Linked DNA regions of Homo sapiens. The protein of the gene in region 2 purifies or fractionates together with the protein of the main gene of each other region. This does not show direct contact. Each region holds a gene or a part of one and is shown on either strand. Other genes may lie near its edges.

Region 1 (3,652 bases), on a different chromosome or scaffold from region 2:
CCAGTGCCCTACCACCCAACGCATGCAGACACCCTGCTGGTAGTTTAGTTAGTCTTCTGTTCAGCTGTGGGCTGGGATACAGGCAGTGTCTCCATGTCACCTGTATGCTCAGGCAGAGTCAAGAAGGCAGGGAGCCCTTCATTTGCCAGTCTCTTCATATTGGATCTGTATTTGTTGTACTGTATGTGTCATTCGCTTAGTGTCTGGGTTTAAATCAGCAATTAGTGATTCATGTGGATTCAACAGGACACAAACAAGGAAAGCCCTTGGGGAGGTTTGGATGTGGGGTGGGGTGTGTGGCTAAGGCGGGAAAGAGGGCTGAGTGGCAGGGTGGGGCCCAGGGCAGGAGAAGTAACCATCAATGGGAAAACAAGGCAATGTGACATTTGTGCCTTTTGTTTCTTCTGGCTGCTCAAGTAATGTAAGGCTGCATGCTGGTCCCCCTGCTGTTCGCTCTCTGGGCCACTCTGTGGAGTGGAGCTCGGGCCCTGGCACCTGGCAGGTGCTGTCATTTTCCCTCCACCCTCATCTTCATGTGTAAACAGGTGCCATGGAGGAAAATGAGCATCAAGGTGGCTTTAAAGGGGCACAGTGGCAGACATCCAGATGCAGGCTGAAGTGGGAAGGTTTGGAACTGTAGGCATGCATGTGGATCTCTGCCTGATTTGGAGCCCCACTGGTGGAACCTCATCTTTCTCTTCACCTGATGGCTCTCAGTATGGCAGGAAGGAGGCCTGGCTACTACTTTACTAATCTGGGAGAGGTAGAAGGCGTTTGGGGAGGGAGCAAAACCCATGTTGGGGTCTTATTTCCTGCTTGTCTTCTGATGTGGTCTGGTTCATGTGTCAGCATTCTTGCTGCATAATGTGAATTAATGTGTAGTATGAATTTAAAACAGCGAAGAATCCCAAGGTTTTAAGCCCATATAGGTCACATGCCTGGAATAAAATTTTGTTTAAAAAAGTTGGATAAGGCTAAGTGCTCTGAAAGTGAGACCGATGCAGGTACCAGCCTCTAGAAATGGCAATTTTAGTTAGAAAACCCTGGACAGTATGTGAGGGGTATACAGGGTAAATCTCGGAGACGCTTTCATCTCCCTCAACATGACAGACCTGTGCTTTTCTGCACCTGTCCTTTGCCAGTGTCTGGGATTGGAATCAGATTCCTCTTTTCTGTCTGTTGGGATACTGATTCCTGCTTATGTCTTTGTCCTACCCTTTGTCTTTGTACCTACCCCCTTGACCTCTGTGTGTTGTTTCCTTCTGTCCTAACCCTAGGTGCCTCACCCAATAAGGGTTGTGGTGGCAGTGCATGGCTCTGCCACCACAACCCTTGGTTCCAATTACAAAGCCATTTAAGCCTGGCTCTGGTTGAACCATGAGGGTAGTAAAGTCTCTATTTGAGGATAGATGTGGCCAGAGGGGCAGAAGATTAGAGAGAGAATAGAGGCTGGTACAGTGGTAGGAAGGGAAGGGTGACTGGAAAAGTGCCTCTGTCTGGGAGCAGCCTGCATGAGTGACAGTGACATGGGAAGATGACAGCAATGTGGGAAAGAGAGCATAGGATTTGTGTCTGTAAGAACAGGAAGGAAATTCTCAGGAAAGATGAATATAAGCTTTAGACACATACAGCACATTTTGATTTTGTGTAGCCAGGAAGAGTTATATACCTCCCAGACCAGTGCTGATGTTGCAAACAAGATTAAATAGCTTTAAAAGTGTTAGCAATGAAAAATGTAGGAGATTGGGACATCTGAGAACCTGTAGATGGCAAATGATCATTTGTGTTCTGCTCCAGAGGGAGAGAAGTTCATTTGTAGAGTTTGGGAAGTCTCTTCTTTGAATACGGTAAGGCTGAGGAAGCCATCTCTTACTTCCCAGTTAGTTAGAAAAGGCTTCTGAAAGGGATTGAAAGAAACTTTGAAGTACTATGGGTGTGACCTCAGAGGCAGGGCTGGAGTGATCAAAGGCAGAGGAGAAAGAGGAGGCAGAGAAAAGTGAGATGGTTTGGAGCAATCAGGAGAAGGGTTCTGAAAGAAGGGGATGAGGATTGTGATTTATGGATGAACAAACACCACTGTCCTAATAGTTGTCCCAGAGGTAGTGCACTTCCCTTTCCTGGGGACCATTTGACAAGGGTGCAGGAGAAGGAAATTCTTGTCAGGAGGACTTGGCCTACTAGGATGCCTTTCAGCTGTGAGAATCATTGAGCTACCTCCAGGTACCCAGGGCTGTGTTAAGATGTTGCCATCTTCTACGGTTTTCATGGCAGCAAGACTGCTGGTACTTCCATAATGGCAGTAATACCAGCTCTCCTAACTCTAGCCCTTACTGTGACCCAACTATATCAATCAGTCTTCAAAACAACCCTGTAAGATAGATACCTTGCATTATCACATTTTTATAGATGGGGAGATTGAAGCTTAGGGAGGTTAAGTAACTTGCCTAAGCTGGGCATGGTGGCTCATGCTTGTAACCGCAGCACTTTGGGAGGCTGAGGCGGGTGGATCACTTGAGGTCAGGAGTTTGAGACCAGCCTGGCCAACATGGTGAAACACCGTCTGTACTAAAAATACAAAAATTAGCCGAGCATGGTGGCACATTCCTGTAATCCCAGCTACTCGGGAGGCTGAGGCAGGAGAATCGCTTGAACCCAGGAGGCAGAGGTTGCAGTGAGCCGAGATCGCGCCGTTGCACTCCAGCCTGGGCAATGAGCAAAACTCTGTCTCAAAAAAAAAAAAAGAGTCACTTGCCTAAGATAGATTGCTGACAGTGTTAGGGCTCCAAGCTCCTGCTGTCTTGCTCCATGTGCATGCTCTCTATTCCCAAGATGACTTCATGGTCCAAGATGACTCTTCTAGCCGCAGCCATCAGGAAGGAAGAAAAGGCTAGTGAAGGGTAGGACCTCTTAATGTAAGGATACTTCCTGGAAGTTATATACATCACTTCCACTAACATTCTCATTGGCTAGAACCTAGTCATGTGACCATATTTAGCTGCAAAGAAGGCTGGAAAATATGCTTATCCTGAGGGTCCATGTGTCCTGAGAAAAACTTGGGATTCTATGACTGTAGGGAAAGGAGAGAACAGATTTTGGGGGACAGCTGCCCATCTCTGCCATAGTCACAAAGCTAAAAAGTGGCAGAGTAGGGTTTTGAAGCCAGGACCATTTGGTTCCAAATCCTGTGTTCTTACATCTAATAAGCTATTCCGTTTGACTCTGAAGCCGAGCCTCTGGCTTCTAAGAAGGCTTGTTAGGAAGGCATGAGTTAGATGAACCAACGTTTGTTTCATAGGAAGCAACCTAAATCAGCATATAATTAAACACTACATTTTGTGGTTTTATCAGTGAGTATTAAAGTGTTTATAGAGTGCTTATGTGCCAGTCACTGTGCTAAACACTTTACATAGCATGACCTTCTGTATAAAATTCTTGAAGACCATCTGTCATGTTCATTACTGTAGTCCCAGAACTCAGCCTTGTGCCATGCAAAGTAAGCAGGTGTTCAGTTATTTTATTTTTTTTGAGATGGAGTCTCACACTGTTGCTCAGGCTGGAGTGCAGTGGCACGATCTTGGCTCACCGTAACCTCCGCCTGCTGGGTTCACGCGATTCTCCTGCCTCAGCCTCCCGAGTAGCTGGGATTACAGGC
Region 2 (3,752 bases):
AAGGCAAGGACTCATCTCTGTAGCCCTGATGCATAATTGATGTTCTTCAAATGTTTGCTGATTTGAGTTGAACTGAGGAGAATAACAAAACAGCATTTGAGAATCAAAGTCTCCCAGGTTTTCCTTATATAATTTACAAGGACTTCCCTGGCAAACTATCCTTTCTTCTTCGTTTAAAAAATTTCACTTTATTATGTTCATCTTTGATGTGGAACATTTTTTATGGCCTTCTGCTGTGACTCATTTTGGTGCTGAGTTATCTGCTTCCTTGGAGCTCAGCCCTTCCTTTTAAGCTGTGGTATTCAGGCTCCCCAAAGTCAGCTTGCCTACGGGTAGAGATCACAGCAAAATGTGCAAATGGTATTCCAACTTCTAGGTAAAAACAGACAACTAAAATTAAAAACTCTACATCATGTAAGTCACCTGGAAAAAAAAAACAGAAAACAAAACCCGAGGGCATTTGTATATTCCTGTTAACTCTTGACTGACTAAAGGGAGTTATCTTTTCTGCAGTGATAAAAAGGTGGCCCAAGACAATCTCCCCATCTTACAAAAAGTTCTGAAGTTTTACTGTGGAGTCCAATTAAACTGGCATTTAACTTCAGAAACTACATCCCTATATAATGTAATCATCACAACCAAATACAAATTAATTAATATATATGGACAAAGTTTATAAGTTCAATATTAGAATAGGGGAAAAGGGAAGTAGGAAAAGTTTAGAGTCCTCCACGCATCCTTCATTTATCACCAAGAGATTTGCTCCTTTGCTCCTTCTGTTAGTGTAAGTCAGAATTTCTCAATTTTCAGTGTGTTTATGAATTGTTATTATTGTTTATCCCAAACACATATTTTGTCTTATAGGTGATTTAAGAGCTCTAAAAGGGACATGTTAACTATCTTCAGAAGCTCACCTCTAACAATATTTCTATACCTATATTATACAAGAAAACTAATGAAGATTGACAGTCAAATTCCTGGAGAGACCTTTGACCCTTCTCTGTCTTAAATTTTTCACTTCTGAAATAGAAAGCCGGGTCACTGGTCATCTTATCCTGCACTTTGGGCATAAAGAAGCTTAGGTCCAAAGCGCCATTACTGTACTCATGATGACCCCTTGAAGGCACATCAGTAGGGCTGTCTGGACTGTGACATGCCATCAGACATCATTTAGGGGACTTCAAGTCTGGCTTCTTGCAGAGATGCTGTGGGATGCCTCAAAAACTTCCTGCATGGCTAGTGTAACTATGGGGCTTTAGATCTTTGTTAAATACAAGCAAACATTAACAGCAGCAGTGGAGAGGATAAGTTGCCAATCCTCCCAAATTTCTTTTCCAGGCAGGGGGTTGTCCTGCCGCTCTCAGAACTGGCTGTCATCTGCTGCTCTCTTGTCACACTGACACGGCCCCCTGGCTGGGCTGATTGGTCGCTGGCAATAACTGATATGGAATACTGATGTTCTCTCCGGCAGTTCCTTCCACTCTAAAGAGACTCCTTTTCATCCCTCTTCTCGCCTTTCCTAGCCCAGCCTAGTGCCCACCCTCCCCCGACCATGCCTCCCCTGCACCTGGGGAGGGGGAGGACCAGTCCTGGGCGTGATGCTCTGAGACGGTGGTGAAATCCACCAGGCTGCTTTCACTCCGGCTCGCTCTCCGGAGAGTCCTGTTCCAGACTTCTCAGGGTTTTTACAGCACAAACAACTGCATACGGCCCGAGGGGAGGCTGAAAAGGACTTGTGTGTGGTGGTTTTATTGCCTGTCATCACTTTGCTGGCCTCCTCCCGACTGGAGCCTGGAGGTTCACAGTGGATTTCTTTCTGCCGAAGACACCAAGGCACTGAGGAAGGATCCCTTCTCCTTCTGTTGACTCTTTCTATTTTTATGGTAAGTGCTTACGTTGAATGAGCTGCTCTGTTGCTGCAGTGAACTGAACCGTTCGTTCCCCCTCTTCCCAGCTAAGCTTAGTGACCTTCCTTCTGCATTTCCTCTGTTTTCATGGATCTTGTCTGGGATGATCCAGCTTCAAAAATGCCAGGGGTCATTTGCCTGGAGTGTTTGTCTTTTTATCTTTTTTCCATAAACGTGAGCTCTTCTGCTGTGATACGAATATAAGTGCTCTGTCTTTGTCCTTGAAGCAGCAGCCGGGGAAATGTGTTCACGATGGTAAACTGCAGCAGCGTGCAGGGAATCTGTGGAGGATGACTGACAAATTTGGGCAGGATGAATCCTCAGTGTGCCAGGGGCACTCACTCAGGATCAGAAGGGCCGGGGGTGACCTGCCCACATAGCAAACTCTTCCATCTTTGTGGATAAAGATGAGCACACACGTGTGAGTTATGTTGAGTCTGCTGTGGGCAGCTGTGTTTTCTGCACCTGCCCGTGTGGGTCTGGGATGACCCTATATCTTGTGGGGTTTACAACTTGGGCAGGAACATTCTCAGCAGGAGGAATCCTGAGCTGGCAGACGGAGTAGACTGCATGACCTCATTGCTTCTTTCCCTTCTGAGTCTCAGGGTACCCAGTTCTGCAAACCATATTTTACAGGCTCTTCAGAGAGTGGTAGGGCAGTGATGACAGGAACATTTTTGAGTTGACAACATAGTTTTGTCCTCCTGCTAGGAGATAAAATACTTTGAGGTTATTAGAATGGTTAGACTTTTCTAGGAGAACATAAGCAGGTTTCTGACGAAGACTATGGATGTGGCAGATTGTTTATTCCAGGGACATTACTCTTACAATAGTGCTCTAATTTTTCACCTGGTCTCCTGAGGTTTGCTGCAAAGAGCATCACAACTTCAAGTCTATTACTGGCAGCTTCTTGACGCCCAAAGGAAACCAAGAACATTTTATTAGTTTCACTCCTGTGCGTTGCAGGAGTCTCTCTTAACAGGGATTTTTTTTTTTTTTTTTTGGTAGCAGGTGTGTCGAACTATTTTGGTCAAAGCATCATTCCAAAGAATAGCTTCGCAGTTGTAATTCTATTTAGTTATTTTCAAGTCTTGGACCGGAGGTGGGTTATCTTATTTGTGTAGGTTTTTCCATTCTGGTCCATTTCACTCTAGAGAGGGTTCTTGCCAAATGTAATTCAGTCTCTGATTCATAAGGTACTGAACTAATACAATGTGATTTTTTGTGATAAGTGAGGGGAGAGAATGTGGGGTGAAATTTCCAGTCTCTCCTCCTGCTCTTTGGGAGTTTGGAATGTAAAGTTCCCTAACTGCTTGCTCATTTTCACTACTTTTATGTCCCCTGTTCATGTGGATTTTTCTTGAAATAGTGGTGATGACATCAGACATATGCCTTTACCTTCTTCTCTGGGTCCAAAGTAGATGCGTTTGTTGTTGTTCTGTTTTTGTTTGTTTTTTATTTCAGTGAAGGGTTCCTTGCATTTGTAAAAGCATACGTTTAAATAAAAAACAAGAATTTGTAGATGTTTACATGTTAGCCCTGTTCAAGAGTAAAACCAGCACAGAGGTTAACAGCAAAAAAAAAAAAAATTCAAAACAATTTTTAAAATATTATCAGCATTGCTTGGCTTAGCTGTTCTAATATCCACTCTTCCCTACACTCGATTGTGGTTCGCGGCAATACTGTATTGTAATTTGACTGTCAGACTGCTCTGCTTCCTCTTTAATTCTTTAATGTTTAGCTGTTTACTTTCATCCTTAATGGTGTGTTCTTACTTTGCTTAATCTTTTTTTCTCTTTTTCTAATTGAAAGGATGTTATATAGTGCCTGGTAACTCAACTGAGG
Region 3 (3,652 bases), on a different chromosome or scaffold from region 2:
CTTGAAATAACTTCCTATGTACACTCATAGGAAGAGTGTACACTTTGCTGAGGTTGACCGTACTTGTGGTTTTCATCAGGAAGTGAAAGTTTATGTGGCCTACATGTGTGAGCCCACTCTATACTAGGGATAGCAGGAGTGTGGTGCTCTAGGGGCAGAGGCCTGGGGTGTCACACAGACCTTGTTGGAATCCTAGCATTGCCATCTATTCACTGTTTGGCTTTTTCAAACTTCCTTTTAAAAAACGTGACAAAATGGTTATAATACTAAACTATTTGGGTTGTTGTAAATTTTAAGAACAACAGCAGTTACTACCATGTATTGAGCACTTAGGTTGTGTCAGGTACCCTGCCAAGAAAAGATCATAAGCAATGTCACTTCATTTCCATCATAATACATGAAGTAGTGCTATGGTTTGGATGTGGTTTGTTTCCACCAAAGCTCATGTGGAAGTCTAATTGCCACTGCATCTTGGGAGGTGGGGCCCAGTAGGAAGTGTTTGGGTCATGGGGGCGGGTTCCTCATGAATAGATCAATGCTGTCTCCCAGGATCGAGTTCTCAATCTCAAGGGAATGGATTAGTCGCCATGAGAGTGGGTTGTTATAAAGTGAGGCTCTTCCTGCTCTTTGGTCCCTCTTTACCTGCACCTGCCTCTCCTTCCACTTCTCTGCCATGTTATGATGCAGCACAAAAGCCCTCACCAGCAACTGATGCCAGTGCCTAGCGCTTGGACTTATCAGTCATCAGAATTGTGAGCCAAATAAACCTGTTTTCTTTATAAATTACCTAGTCTCAGTATTCTGTTATAGCAACACAAAATGGACTAAATCAATTAGTGATTGTTATTTCCACATGAAGACGAGGAAACTGAGGTGGTATATCACCCCTGGCCACACAGCTAGTGAGTGTCTGGCCTCAGGCTTCTATTCCAGGTCTGCCAACCCCAGATTCTGTGAGAGATAATGCAAAATCAGAGTCACTCCTAGTGCAGTCAGTGCTTAACAAGTGTTCATTCTCTTTCCTCCCAGATGCATCTTGTAGCTTTGATAGATCTCTGATTTCTTAATAAATTTTTATATGTAACATTCTATACAGCAGGTGGTCTGTCATACTGCCCTCATGTGGCTCATTTGGGTAATAGTGGGTTTTTTTTTTAAAGTTTAATGCAAAATATGTGTTATTTAAAATGTGTCTCTAAAGTCACCTAAATCTGTGGATACTTTGGGAGTTTGTATGATTCTATAACCCCAGTATGTAAGAAATGGCACTTTTTCTTTTCTACTGCCCACTTTAATGTCTTAACTCTGAGCCCTCATTTGGCTGGGAAGATACTTAACTTCAGTTACTCTAGTAGCTTCTACCCTGTCTTTGCCAAGATCTCCCATTCCTTCTGTTGTCTTGGAAGAGAAACCTTCTCTTCCCTGGTATTGTGCATAATGAAACTTTATTTCACCATCCTGTCAAGAGGGGAAAAATTTTTTTCACAATTATATTTTTCCATCTAATGTTCTGTTTACAGAGACATTTATCAACCACTGGAGAAATACTCAGCTTTCACACTTAAGAAAGAGATATTATTGCCAGAGTGTAGAGTGTTAATTCATTTTCCAGTTTAAATTGTAGAATTTTTTTTCCAAGAGGAAAAGAAAAAGGTCAGTTTTTGTCTCCACCTATAAGGAGCATTAAGTCACTAAGTGAAATTCCCTTAGTTTTCTCTTCATGCATGGAGAGGGTCCCAGCTTCCATGGACTCATTCTCCCATGCTATACAAAGTTACACAGGTGTATTTAAAGTTTAGTGGATTGTTTAGCTTAGGGATCTCCAAAGCGCATATCATCGAGGGACTGCCTTGTTTTCCAGTGGCTCTCTCCATGGAGGATTTAAAGGTAGATATGTATCACACTGGGCCTTACTTATGTCTGAATAATGAAAGGCTATGTCAATGGGAAAAGGGAATTTAGGGTGGGAAAAGGCAAGGAATTTTCTTTTTTTTTATTATTTAAGCACCATTTAGTAACAATGTACATACAGTCTCTGTTCTTAAATGTATTTAAGAGTTAACATCATCCTCATGCCAAGACCTTACTGTGTTTCAGATAACGGAGGGCAGACTTTGGCAGGGGGTAATAACTGGCCCCTTCGAGGAAGAAAATGGAGCCTGTGGGAAGGAGGCGTCCGAGGGGTGGGCTTTGTGGCAAGCCCCTTGCTGAAGCAGAAGGGCGTGAAGAACCGGGAGCTCATCCACATCTCTGACTGGCTGCCAACACTCGTGAAGCTGGCCAGGGGACACACCAATGGCACAAAGCCTCTGGATGGCTTCGACGTGTGGAAAACCATCAGGTACCTACACCCTGCCCTTTTTCCTCCCAGGACAGAAACTCCAAGAGCAGCCTGACTCCATTGAGCAAGAATGATAGCTTTTGTGTTAAAATGATAGTTCAGCTTACAAATACATGATTTTTAAGAAAAATAAGTGCCTTTAGAGACATTGTAAGTATATATATTTTTAAATTATAAATTTGAGATTGTGGGCCTGTGTTTTACGTGAAGAACAAGATTGTCCTCAGCCCATCGCCCTCCATGGAAGGTCTTTGAAGCTGCGACGTTTTGCTTAGAAGTAGGCTAGGGTATTGTTAGCTTCCTGCAGGGGGTCAGGGAACTAGTCCTGTTGTCTGCTGGAAGAATGGAGGACAAAACAGCAGGGAAAAAGCTGGAATAGGAACTAGGGATATGTTTATTTCCATTTATTAGCAAGTATCTAACAAGCACCTACTATGTGCCATACCTTCTTCTAGATGCTGAGAAATTAGGAATGAACAAGTCAGTCAAGATCCTGCCTCTCAGGAAGCTGTATTCTAGTTGGGGGAGAAAGATGTTGGACAAATGAACACACAGATGAGCAAGATGACTGCCAGTTGTGATAAGTGCCAGGAAGGCAAAAAAGTATGTTGTGATAGATAGAGCTGGCTGATGTGAAGAAGATACATCAGGGAACAGGACCCAGACTCAGATTTGGAAATCGTGATGGTCTTTTTCCTGTTTAACCCCCACAGTGTAGAGCAATAGCCCCCAAGGTTGGGAGGCACATGCCTTAGAGGTTGCAAGATGTTCCCTTGGAGTACAGGAAGAAAATTTCAATCTTGTATTTGTATTAATATCTAATTTCATCTCATCCTTTTTAAAGTATATGTTTTTTAAGACACATAATATATTAGTAGACTTGTACATAAATCTAATTTATAAATAAATATGCATATATTGGAGGTATTATTTTTACGGGTGGAATGACCTAGTGCAATGGTTTTCAACCTCTGTTTGGTGTTACAGCTCTGTTTGGGGTTAGCAGCTGATTGACTGTCCCTTAGTGGCCAGGGGGAGAGGACTTCCTCAGGCCATCTCTTCATCCCACTCCAGGTATCCCAGCTCAAGAATAGCAGGTTTCAGGTCTCTAGTTATAGGAAATACACAATGGAGTATTTAGGAGCAAAAAGCCATGATATATTTAACATACCCTCAAATGGTTCAGAAAAAAATTGTGTGTGTGTGTGTGTGTGTATGTATGTACATGTGCACAGAGAGAATTCAAATGGACTGCAAAATTAAATAAAAGAATATAGGTAAGGTGCATAAGTATTCTTTTGTTATGTCTTA

What was found.
Region 1: the proteins of ANO4 (region 2) and IGSF3 fractionate together in Homo sapiens (co-fractionation; one large-scale study listed by BioGRID). This does not show direct contact.
Region 3: the proteins of ANO4 (region 2) and ARSB fractionate together in Homo sapiens (co-fractionation; one large-scale study listed by BioGRID). This does not show direct contact.

The regions. Positions count from the first base shown.
Region 1 is NC_000001.11:116,661,166-116,664,817, reverse strand, and holds part of IGSF3 (immunoglobulin superfamily member 3 isoform 2 precursor), read left to right. Parts: intron 1-3,652.
Region 2 is NC_000012.12:100,793,145-100,796,896, forward strand, and holds the start of ANO4 (anoctamin-4), read left to right. Parts: upstream 1-1,631; 5' UTR 1,632-1,883; intron 1,884-3,752. UniProt on the Homo sapiens protein: Has calcium-dependent phospholipid scramblase activity; scrambles phosphatidylserine, phosphatidylcholine and galactosylceramide. Does not exhibit calcium-activated chloride channel (CaCC) activity.
Region 3 is NC_000005.10:78,884,273-78,887,924, reverse strand, and holds part of ARSB (arylsulfatase B isoform 1 precursor), read left to right. Parts: intron 1-2,097; coding exon 2,098-2,341; intron 2,342-2,796; coding exon of another isoform or gene 2,797-2,803; exon of another isoform or gene 2,804-3,626; intron 3,627-3,652. UniProt on the Homo sapiens protein: Removes sulfate groups from chondroitin-4-sulfate (C4S) and regulates its degradation. Involved in the regulation of cell adhesion, cell migration and invasion in colonic epithelium.